Linked DNA regions of Homo sapiens. The protein of the gene in region 2 purifies or fractionates together with the protein of the main gene of each other region. This does not show direct contact. Each region holds a gene or a part of one and is shown on either strand. Other genes may lie near its edges.

Evidence for each region.
Region 1: the proteins of CHST9 (region 2) and NADK purify together in Homo sapiens (co-immunoprecipitation; one large-scale study listed by IntAct). This does not show direct contact.

The regions. Positions count from the first base shown.
Region 1 is NC_000001.11:1,771,396-1,776,654, reverse strand, and holds part of NADK (NAD kinase), read left to right. Parts: intron 1-5,259.
Region 2 is NC_000018.10:26,915,433-26,920,691, reverse strand, and holds part of CHST9 (carbohydrate sulfotransferase 9), read left to right. Parts: intron 1-3,341; coding exon 3,342-4,433; 3' UTR 4,434-5,259. UniProt on the Homo sapiens protein: Catalyzes the transfer of sulfate to position 4 of non-reducing N-acetylgalactosamine (GalNAc) residues in both N-glycans and O-glycans.

The sequences.
Region 1 (5,259 bases), on a different chromosome or scaffold from region 2:
ATTACAGGCGCCCACCACCACGCTCAGCTAATTTTTGTATTTTTAGTAGAGACGGGTTTCACTGTGTTGGCCAGGCTTGTCTCGAACTCCTGACCTCGTGATCAGCCCACCTTGGCCTCCCAAAGTGCTGGGATTACAGGTGTGAGCCACCACAGCTTGCCTCACTTGGACCAGTCTTTTTGTTTGTTTGTTTCATTTGAACTTGGAGGTGGGTTTATGTTGTTTCAGTTGGCAGCCTGCTGTTTGGTTCCAAAACAGCATTTTCTTCTTGAAACAACTGCTGTCAGCAGTTAGATTTCCAGGCTAGCACAAAAACCTGTTTGACTCATAAATCCTTGTAGTGAGGGTGTCCCAGAAAGTTGGCCAAGTCAAGAGCAGTTCTTGTGGAGTGGAGGCGGTGAACAAATAGGGGGAAAGTGGCGCTCGTGATGAAAACGGAAAACAATAGTTGATTTTATTGAGCTTCACGCTTGAGGAAATGTAGGTCTCACTTGGAAAATTAAGAGGCAGGTGGGTGTTTGCGGGACTCGACGGCCTTGCATCTGGATTACCTCCAGTCTGCAGGTGTGGTAGGATGACAGCAAGAGGGAGTGTTGAGCACACAAGCCCAGCACTTGGGGGGAGGCTGTGTCATGGCAGGAAGGTACAGGGCCTCCTCCAGCAGCTCCACTTTCTAGTCCGTATATACCTGTTGACAGTCACCGCCCAGCTTCAGCCGTTCTGGACAAGTGGGTGTCAGTAATGCTTTAGCTTGTAACCCCAGGATTTCATTTCTACTCTCTGTGCTGGTGGCTTATCATTTGCAATCTTTCCTGGCCCACAATTGCAAAGGTCCTAGCATTCATGCATGGGAATGGGGAAGTGAATAAAATGTGTGTGTGTGCTTCAGACAGATGGTGAAAAGTGTTCAGAGAAAAAGCGAAATTGAGGCAGATGGGATGTGAGGATGCCACGCACACTTTGTGCAACTGAAGAGGGAGGTGATGCCTGGCCTTCCCATTCAGAACTGCCCAGACCCCTGTTTTCTTCATCTGCCCCTAAGTAGGTGGAGCCACATCTAAAGAAAGCCCCCTTCAGACCTGTAATCTGCTTAGGTTTAATGAGGTCACAGGGTGAAGCCCTGTGGTCACATGGCTGTAGCACTTTCCAGAAAGTCTTTCTCAGTTTGTATACTGCCAGTGTGCATGCCAGCACTGGGCATTATTTACCGGGGTGAGATGAGATGGGTAATTTAGTGGGCAGTAAGTTTTTTCCCACTCAGGGTTGAGGTTGAATGTTTCCCCATTTCTGTCACTAAATAAATTTTCCTTTTTCATTTAGTCTTGCAACAAATATTGATTGAGTTCTTACATGGGAACGAACTCGTGTATTATGTTTGTATTTGTGTGTGTGTGACTTTTGTTCATGTTCTTTGCACATTTATTTATTGGCATCTTAATGTTTTCCTTGCTACTTTGTATAAGTTCGTTATGAATATTTTCTTATTGTGCTCTAGTATTTTTTTCTAATAAAACTTCCTAATACAGAGGATTTTTTTTTTTTCTTTGAGGCGGAGTCTCACTCTGTCCCCCAGGCTGGAGGGCAGTGGCGTGATCTCAGCTCACTGCAACCTCTGCCGCCTGGGTTCAAGCGATTCTCCTGCCTCGGCCTCCTGAGTAGCTGGGATGACAGGCGCCTGCCACCGCGCCCAGCTAATTTTTTTTGTATTTTTAGTAGAGACGGAGTTTCACCATCTTGGCCAGGCTGGTGTTGAACTCCTGATGTCGTGATCTGCCCGCCTCGGCCTCCCAAAATGCTGGGATTACAGTCGTGAGCCACCATGCCCGCCCTACAAAGGTTTTTTAAAATTAGATTCATGCTATGAGGAATTTGAATGCACTTTGGTGCAGCTAGCATTGTGTGTCCTTTTAAAGCAGTTAATATATCAAACAAATGAATTAAGTGTCAGTCCTGACTCACCCTTGTCAAAAAATACAGTGGTGACCGCGCACGGTGGCCACGCCTGCAATCCCAGCACTGTGGGAGGCCGAGGCACAATGGTGGCCGCGCGCAGTGGCCACGCCCGTAATCCCAGCACTGTGGGAGGCCGAGGCATAATGGTGGCCGTGCGCGGTGGCGACGCCTGCAATCCCAGCACTTTGGGAGGCCAAGGCGGGCGGATCATCTGAGGTTGAGAGTTTGAGACCAGCCTGACCAACATGGAGAAACCCCTCCATGTTGGAGAATTAAGAGGCAGGTCTCCACTAAAAATACAAAATTAGCTGGGCGTGGTGGCGCACACCTGTAGTCCCAGCTACTTGGGAAGCTGAGGCAGGAGAATTGCTTGAACCTGGGAGGCAGAGTTTGCGGTGAGCCGAGATCGCGCCACTGCACTCCAGCCTGGACAACATCAGCGAAGCTCCATCTCAAAAAAACAAAAAATACACTGGTTGTGGTATTGGAGATACTTGTTAAATATATATATATGTGTGTGTGTGTGTGTATATATATACACACACACACATACATAGGTGAAGATAATTGTTTAAAGTTGGTTTTAATATTTAATATTATTTTATAAATTAGTTTACTGCTTAGTCATCAAATTGATCTTCGCAAATAAATATGAACAGAGCTTCTAGGCTGGGTGCAGTGGCTCATGCCTGTAATCCCAATGCTTTGGGAGGTCAACACAGGAGGGCCACCAGAGCCCAGGAGTTCAAGGTCAGCCCGTTCAAGGTAGCGAGACCCTGTCTCTACAAAAAATTTAAAAATTAGCTGGACATAGTGGCTCATGCCTGTAGTCTCAGCTACATGGGAGGATCCCTTAAGCCTGGGAGATTGAGGCTGCAGTAAGCTGTAATTGCACCACTGCACTCCAGCTTAGGTGACAGAGCAAGACCCTACCTCTCAGTCTCTCAATATCTCTATTTCTCTCTCTCTCTCACACACACACACACACACACACACACACACACACACACACACACACACACACAAAATAGAGCTTCTAGGTAATGTAGCAGTAATAATACATTTTTTTTAACATTTTGTGATTTTGATTTGTTTATTTTTTATTAATGTTTTTGTAGAGACGGGGTCTTGCTGTGTTGCCCAGGCTGGTCTCCAATTCCTGGCTTCAGGTGATTCCCCTGCTTCGGCCTCCCAAAGTGCTGGGATTACAAGTGTGAGCCACTGTGTCTGACCTTTATTAACTGTTTATTTTGAAATAATTGGCTGGGTGCGGTGGCTCACACCTGTAATCCCAGCACTTTGGGAGGCCGAGGCGGGCGGATCACCTGAGGTCAGGAGTTTGAGGACCAACCTGGTCAACATGGTGAAACCCCATCTCTACTTAAAATACAAAAATTAGCCGGGTGTGGCGGCGGGCACCTGTAATCCCAGCTACTCAGGAGGCTGAGGCAGGAGAATTGCTTGAACCCTGGAGGCAGATGTTGCAGTGAGCCAAGATTGCGCCATTGCACTCCAACATGGGGGACAAGAGCGAGACTTCGTCTGGGGAAAAAAAAAATAATCATAGACTAATTCATAGGAAGTTGTAAAAATAGTACAGAGAGACCCCTGTGCCCTTCACCAGCTCCCTCTGTGTTAACATCTTTTTTTTTTTTTTTTTGAGATGGAGTTTGGCTCTTGTTGCCCAGGCTGGAGTGCAATGGCGTGATCTCAGCTCACCGCAACCTCCCCCTCCCAGGTTCAAGTGATTCTCCTGCCTCAGCCTCCCGAGTGGCTGGGATTACAGGCATGCGCCACCACGCCGGGCTGATTTTTTGTATTTTTAGTAGAAACGCGGTTTCTGCATGTTGGTCAGGCTGGTCTCAAACTCCTGACCTCAGGTGATCCGCCCGCCTTGGCCTCCGAAAGTGCTGGGATTACAGGCATGAGCCACCATGCCCGGCCCTTGTGTTAACATCTTACACCTCCATACACCTCCATAGTACAATATCAAAACCAGGGAATTGAAATACTGCTAACTAAACTATAGACCTTATTCAGGTTTCACCAGTTTTACATGTGTGTATGGCTCTATGCAGTGTTACCTCTTAAATTAATTATATAACCACTAGCAAGACACAGAACTGGTCTTGAACTCCTGGACTCAAGCGATCCTCCCGCCTCGGCCTCCCAAAGTGCTGGGATTACAGGCACAAGCCACCACACCCAACTGTATTTTAATTTTCTTAACAGTGTTTTGGCTAGGCACAGTGGCTCATGCCTGTAATCCAAGCACATTATGATGCTGAGGCAGAGAGATTGCTTGAGCCCAGGAGTTCGAGGTCAGCCTGGGCAACATGGCAAAACCTCATCTCTACAAAAAAATACAAAAATTAGTCAGGCATGGTGGTGCATGCTTGTAGTCCCTGGTACTCAGGAGGCTGAGGTGGGAAGATTGTCTGAGCACAGTAGGTAGAGGCTACAGTGAACCATGATTACATCACTGTACTCCAGCCTGGGGACAGAGTAAGACCCTGCCTAAAACAGGAAAAAAAAAAAAAATTCAGGGTTCCATTAAGTATAAAAGATTTTAAACACCACTAAGACTTTTTCCAGCTGGGTGAGGTGGCTCACGCCTGTAATCCCAACACTTTGGAAGGCCAAGGTGGGAGGATCACTTGAGACCAGGAGTTTGAAACCAGCCTGTGCAACATAGGGAGACCCCATCTCCACCAAAAAAAAAAAAAAATTTCCAGGTGTGGTGGTGCATGCCTGTAATCCCAGCTACTTGGGAGGCTGAAGTGGGAGGATTGCTTGAGCCTGGAAGGTTGAGGCTGCAGTGAGCTGAGATCACACCACTGTACTCCAGCCTGGGCAACAGTGGGAGATCCTGTCTCACAAAAAGACAAAAAAAAAAAAATTTCCAGTGCTTTCTTCTAAAAAGTTTCATAGTTTTAGTCCTCACATTTAGGTCTATAATCCATTCTGAGTTAATATTTGTATGTAGTATGAGGAAGTGGTTGGGCTTCGTTCTTTTAGACGTGGCTGTCCAGTTGTTCAGAACTATTAGGTGAAAAGATGATCCTCCTCATGTTGAATCACCTCAGCACCTGTCAAAAATTCATGGACTGCATGTGTGTGAGGGTCTGTGGCGTCTACCTTTGGGCTGGCCGTCCTGTTTCCTTGATGTGTATGTCCGTCTTGATGCTGCCACGCTGTCTGGTTCCCGTAGTTTTTCAACAAGTCATGAACTTAGCCCTTCGCGTTTGTTCTTGTTCAAAGTTTTTTCAGCTGGTCTAGATACTTTACATTTTCATGTGAATTTTA
Region 2 (5,259 bases):
TTTCTTCAACAAGGTCATAAAACAGTTGTTTAGAAGACCACTATTAAATTAGAAGCACATTTACTTATTCAAGAATTATTTCCTTAACATCTTCTATGCGCCAGGCAGTGTGCTTAGTACCACAGAGAGCAAGAAAGATAAGACCTCTCTGCAGTTATATTCTAGTGCAATGGAGGTAGAGTGGGGTGAAAAAGACAACAGAGAAGGAAATAAATAAAATCATTTCTCAGTGTGATTAGTGCTATGAGAAAAATAAGCAGGGTTCTGCAGGAAATATTTTGAAAGGGAGGGAAATAACCTAGACAGGGTGAATAGGGAAAGCCTTTCTACAGAGGTGACTTTCCAACTGAGAGCTGAAGAATGAAGAGCCAGTCATGCTGGCTGTTAAGACCTGGGTAACAGTGAAAAGTGGTCAAAGAATTGCAAACCAGGAAATAACACTGAACTGGAAGGTGAGACAAGAGTGGTCAGAAAGATGGTGGGAATAGTAAAGGCTCTGGTGATAACCAAGTTTGATGTGAAGTGGAGAGCTCCTCTGTTAAAAACAAAGTGGTCAAGGAACTGAGAGTTGATTGGATGTCAGAGTCACTAAATGTAATGACAGGAGCTGAGTTAGAAGCTGGAGTGTGTAAAGTGGACAGATCAGTGATAAAGGTAGATGACAACAAGAGGAGGGGGAAAGGGAGACTTAAGGAGAACACATTGATTTCACAGAAGCAGAGGGCTTTGCTGGGTGATGTCCTGGAAGCAGCCGTGGGCTGCAGGGAAATCACTCCCTATCTTCTGGCTGGAGAGACAAGTAGTTCAAGGAAGTCAAGTTTCACCTACTTGAGAAAGTGCAAGAGACACAGAGTGTTGGGAGTCAGCCAAGTTTCATTTACAGAGAGTCTTGGAAACAAACATTCCAGAAACCCCTGGAGATTAAAGGGGAATTTGATGGCCACAAAGCAGAAAGTCCAGAGGCCACAGGGGAAGGTGGATTTTGTTTTTATTTCTGATTGTCAAGCAGAGAAGAGACCTGGTGAGGGCATATGTAGGGACACACAAATTATAGTCTGAATAATAATGGACAAATGGGGAGGCTTTAAATTCACCAGGTCCCTGGGATTAAAGTACTATAACTACTACTACTGCTGCTGCTGCTAAAACAACAATAATAGTAGTTATTATTTATAGCAGTGTAATAGTATAAATATCATGGCAGTTTTATATTTGGCCTGTGCTAAGTACTTTCCATGCATGTGCACCCATAACCCTATGGTCTGTCAAACCACAGTCAAATTTTATATTTTCAGTGACAACTTTATGTACTACAAATCACTGATCAGAGTAAAGAAGCACAAAGGGCTTTGAAGTAATCCTGGCAGTCTCTGGAGAAGACAGCAGACAAATGGTTTTAGAGTTAAAACTCCAAATAGACGGTCCAATGGTATGGAAGATTTGGAGTGGCCGTTTCAGGGGGTGATATGGTTTGGCTGTGTCCCAACCCAAATCTCATCTTGAATTGTAGCTCCTATAATCCCCACGTGTCATGGGAGGGACCAGGTGGGAGGTAATTGAATCATGGGGGTGGGTTTTTCCCATGCTGTCCTCGTGATAGTGAATAAGTCTCACAAGATTTGATGGTTTTATAAAGGGCAGTTCCCCTGCACACTCTCCCTCTTGCCTGCCACCATATAAGACAGGCCTTTGCTCTTCCTTTACCTTCTGCCATGATTGTGAGGCCTCCCCAGCCATGTGGAACTGTGAGTTCATTAAACATCTTTTTCTTTATAAATTACCCAGTCTCGGGTGTGTCTTTATTAGCAGCATGAGAACAGACTAATACACGGGGCTATACACGGGGCTGTACACGTTGGCATATGGTATTCAGGGGGTTATTCACACAGTCCTCTTGCACTAGAAAAAAAAGCAGTGCCCTTCAACCTCAGCTGGTGGAATGACCATGATGTCTGGAGGTGGCTCCATGAACGGTGCTTCATTCCTCTGTTCTATTGCTTAATTTGCTAGAAAATTACTAATTATCCTTGAAGACCTAATTCCATTCATTCATTCACTTGTTCATTCCACAAATATTTGAGAGAAATTATTATAGGCTGTAGACCATTCTAGACACTATTGGGGATACAATGGTTAAAAATTGTGTATACACACACACACATATATATGTACTATATATATATATATGCAATCATGTGTATCATGTATATATATATTTGCAATCATGTTTATATTCCCTAGGAAACTTTCCCCACCACTCCCTCCACCTCTAGGCTGATGACACCATGCATTATGTCCACAGCACAGAATTTATTCATTTACTTTTCCAATAACATGCTGACAACCCTATATGTATATATCCAGTCCATTCCTCTCCACACCATCCTTTTCAAGTCTAAGTGAGATCATGTTACTTTTCTACCCAGAGCCCTACAAAAGTTCCCTAGTTTACCCAGAGTAAAAGCCAAGGTCCTTAAAATTTTCATCCCTACCAGAGGATGCCACCTTGTAAATCCCGTCTTCCATGTCTTCTTTTACTGTGAGAGTTGTAGGAAGGATGTGGCAAGATGAACAGTATGTGGTAAATGGACTCATTCATCCTACTGAAAAGATAACTACATTTTTGCTCTACCTTGATACAGTTTTATAGAGCAGGACGTCAAGTAGACTTTTCTGGATTCCTTAGTCATTCTTCACTTGGGAAAGAGGGAAGGTCTCATATGTGAATGAGATTGTATACTATGATCATAATAAATTCTTAAATTATTGTGATAAATGCTTTAGAAAAATAAAACATTTTCCCAGGAAAAAAAAAATACATGATTTTTGCAAGCACTTAGAAAACTGAAGTGGTCATCGAGATTTATAATTAGCCTTGCCAAAATTTTAAGTTGTAATTTATGATTTTGAACTATTCTGTGCATTACAGAGTGCTCCCTAAAAACAATAAAAGTTTCAATCTCAAAACATCTCCATTTTGTATCTACATTCAGGTGCACAAACTAAAACAGTACTTGAAGATGACATACTTATTAATATCCCAAAAGTCATAGATGCTCAGAATGGTTGAGTTACATCCTATTGCATTACAGGCAAAGCCAGGACAAAAATCCAGGGCTCTTTCCTCCCTATCCTGTAGATGCCATTTCTCATTGCTACATTTTCTGTGAAGAAGCTCACTACAAAATGTATGTTCAGCATGCCTTGCTAAATTGTTCTGGCAGCTTATATGAAATATGCTCTCCTTGATACTATTTTAAAACAAATATGTGAAGTTCCTTATCCAGTATACCCACACTCGTGACTGTGCTTTCAACATTTCTCCTTCTTTATTTTAACAGAACCCCAAGTTTCACATGCCTGAGGATGTACGAGAAAAAAAGGAAAATCTTCTACTCAATTCTGAGAGATCTACTAGGCTCTTAACAAAGACCAGTCATTCACAAGGAGGGGATCAAGCTTTAAGTAAGTCCACAGGGTCACCAACAGAGAAGTTGATTGAAAAACGTCAAGGAGCTAAGACTGTTTTTAACAAGTTCAGCAACATGAATTGGCCAGTGGACATTCACCCTTTAAACAAAAGTTTAGTCAAAGATAATAAATGGAAGAAAACTGAGGAGACCCAAGAGAAACGAAGGTCTTTCCTTCAGGAGTTTTGCAAGAAATACGGTGGGGTGAGTCATCATCAGTCACATCTTTTTCATACAGTATCCAGAATCTATGTAGAAGATAAACACAAAATCTTATATTGTGAGGTACCTAAGGCTGGCTGTTCCAATTGGAAAAGAATTCTGATGGTACTAAATGGATTGGCTTCCTCTGCATACAACATCTCCCACAATGCTGTCCACTACGGGAAGCATTTGAAGAAGCTAGATAGCTTTGACCTAAAAGGGATATATACCCGCTTAAATACTTACACCAAAGCTGTGTTTGTTCGTGATCCCATGGAAAGATTAGTATCAGCCTTTAGGGACAAATTTGAACACCCCAATAGTTATTACCATCCAGTATTCGGAAAGGCAATTATCAAGAAATATCGACCAAATGCCTGTGAAGAAGCATTAATTAATGGATCTGGAGTCAAGTTCAAAGAGTTTATCCACTACTTGCTGGATTCCCACCGTCCAGTAGGAATGGACATTCACTGGGAAAAGGTCAGCAAACTCTGCTATCCGTGTTTGATCAACTATGATTTTGTAGGGAAATTTGAGACTTTGGAAGAAGATGCCAATTACTTTTTACAGATGATCGGTGCTCCAAAGGAGCTGAAATTTCCCAACTTTAAGGATAGGCACTCTTCCGATGAAAGAACCAATGCTCAAGTCGTGAGACAGTATTTAAAGGATCTGACTAGAACTGAGAGACAATTAATCTATGACTTTTATTACTTGGACTATTTAATGTTTAATTATACAACTCCATTTTTGTAGTTTGCATTCATTTTCTAAAACCCTGTATATACTTAATGATGATAAGTTCAAATCAGCTGTAATTTTTCTATAATTCTCTGTATGACAGAAATTTAACCAAGTGCAGTTGTCTTGATTTAATGTAGATTTTTACCAAATAGTATGACACCAATTGGCACAAAGTTATAGGAAAATCACCTACAGGAGATGTAAACAACTTGAGTTGCTCTAAAATGTTTGGAAAAGAGCTGCTTTTGCATTATGAATTATATTGTTGAAGCAATAACCTAGCCAGCTGTTGCATTAGCTAAAGCAGCCTCTTGCAATGGTAGGAAAAAAGGATCTCAAATAGCATGAGTGTATGTCTATATCCTGAAATTTATTGTCTAAAATGCATGAATATATTTTTAGCAGTCTGTGGCATATTAATCAAACTGTTGAATTGTTTTCTTACACCCTGGAAATCTTTCTATCAACTATAATGATAAATCCATTTTGAAGTGATATTTTGGACTTAGGCATTTTACTTTAGATTGGAAGGCATTATGTGATTTACAATATGAGAATATAGCAGAAAAACCAGATGAGGCTGTGGCTTTTTATATTCAACAGCCAATAAAAAATGCACAACATGCTAAGATCAAAGCAACAAAACCAACCTTCTTCTTCCAGAAAAACTTAAGGGAATTGATTCTGTTTTCTTTTGAGCCTTCCACAAAGAGACAAAATGAACACAAGCACTAAAGGTCTACATTTCTGAAGCAGGCAGTTGAGAAGCTTAAGTCTCATCAGATATAAATGTGCTCCTAATTCTGGTTTAATTGAGCAGGGGGGAAATTGTTTCAGG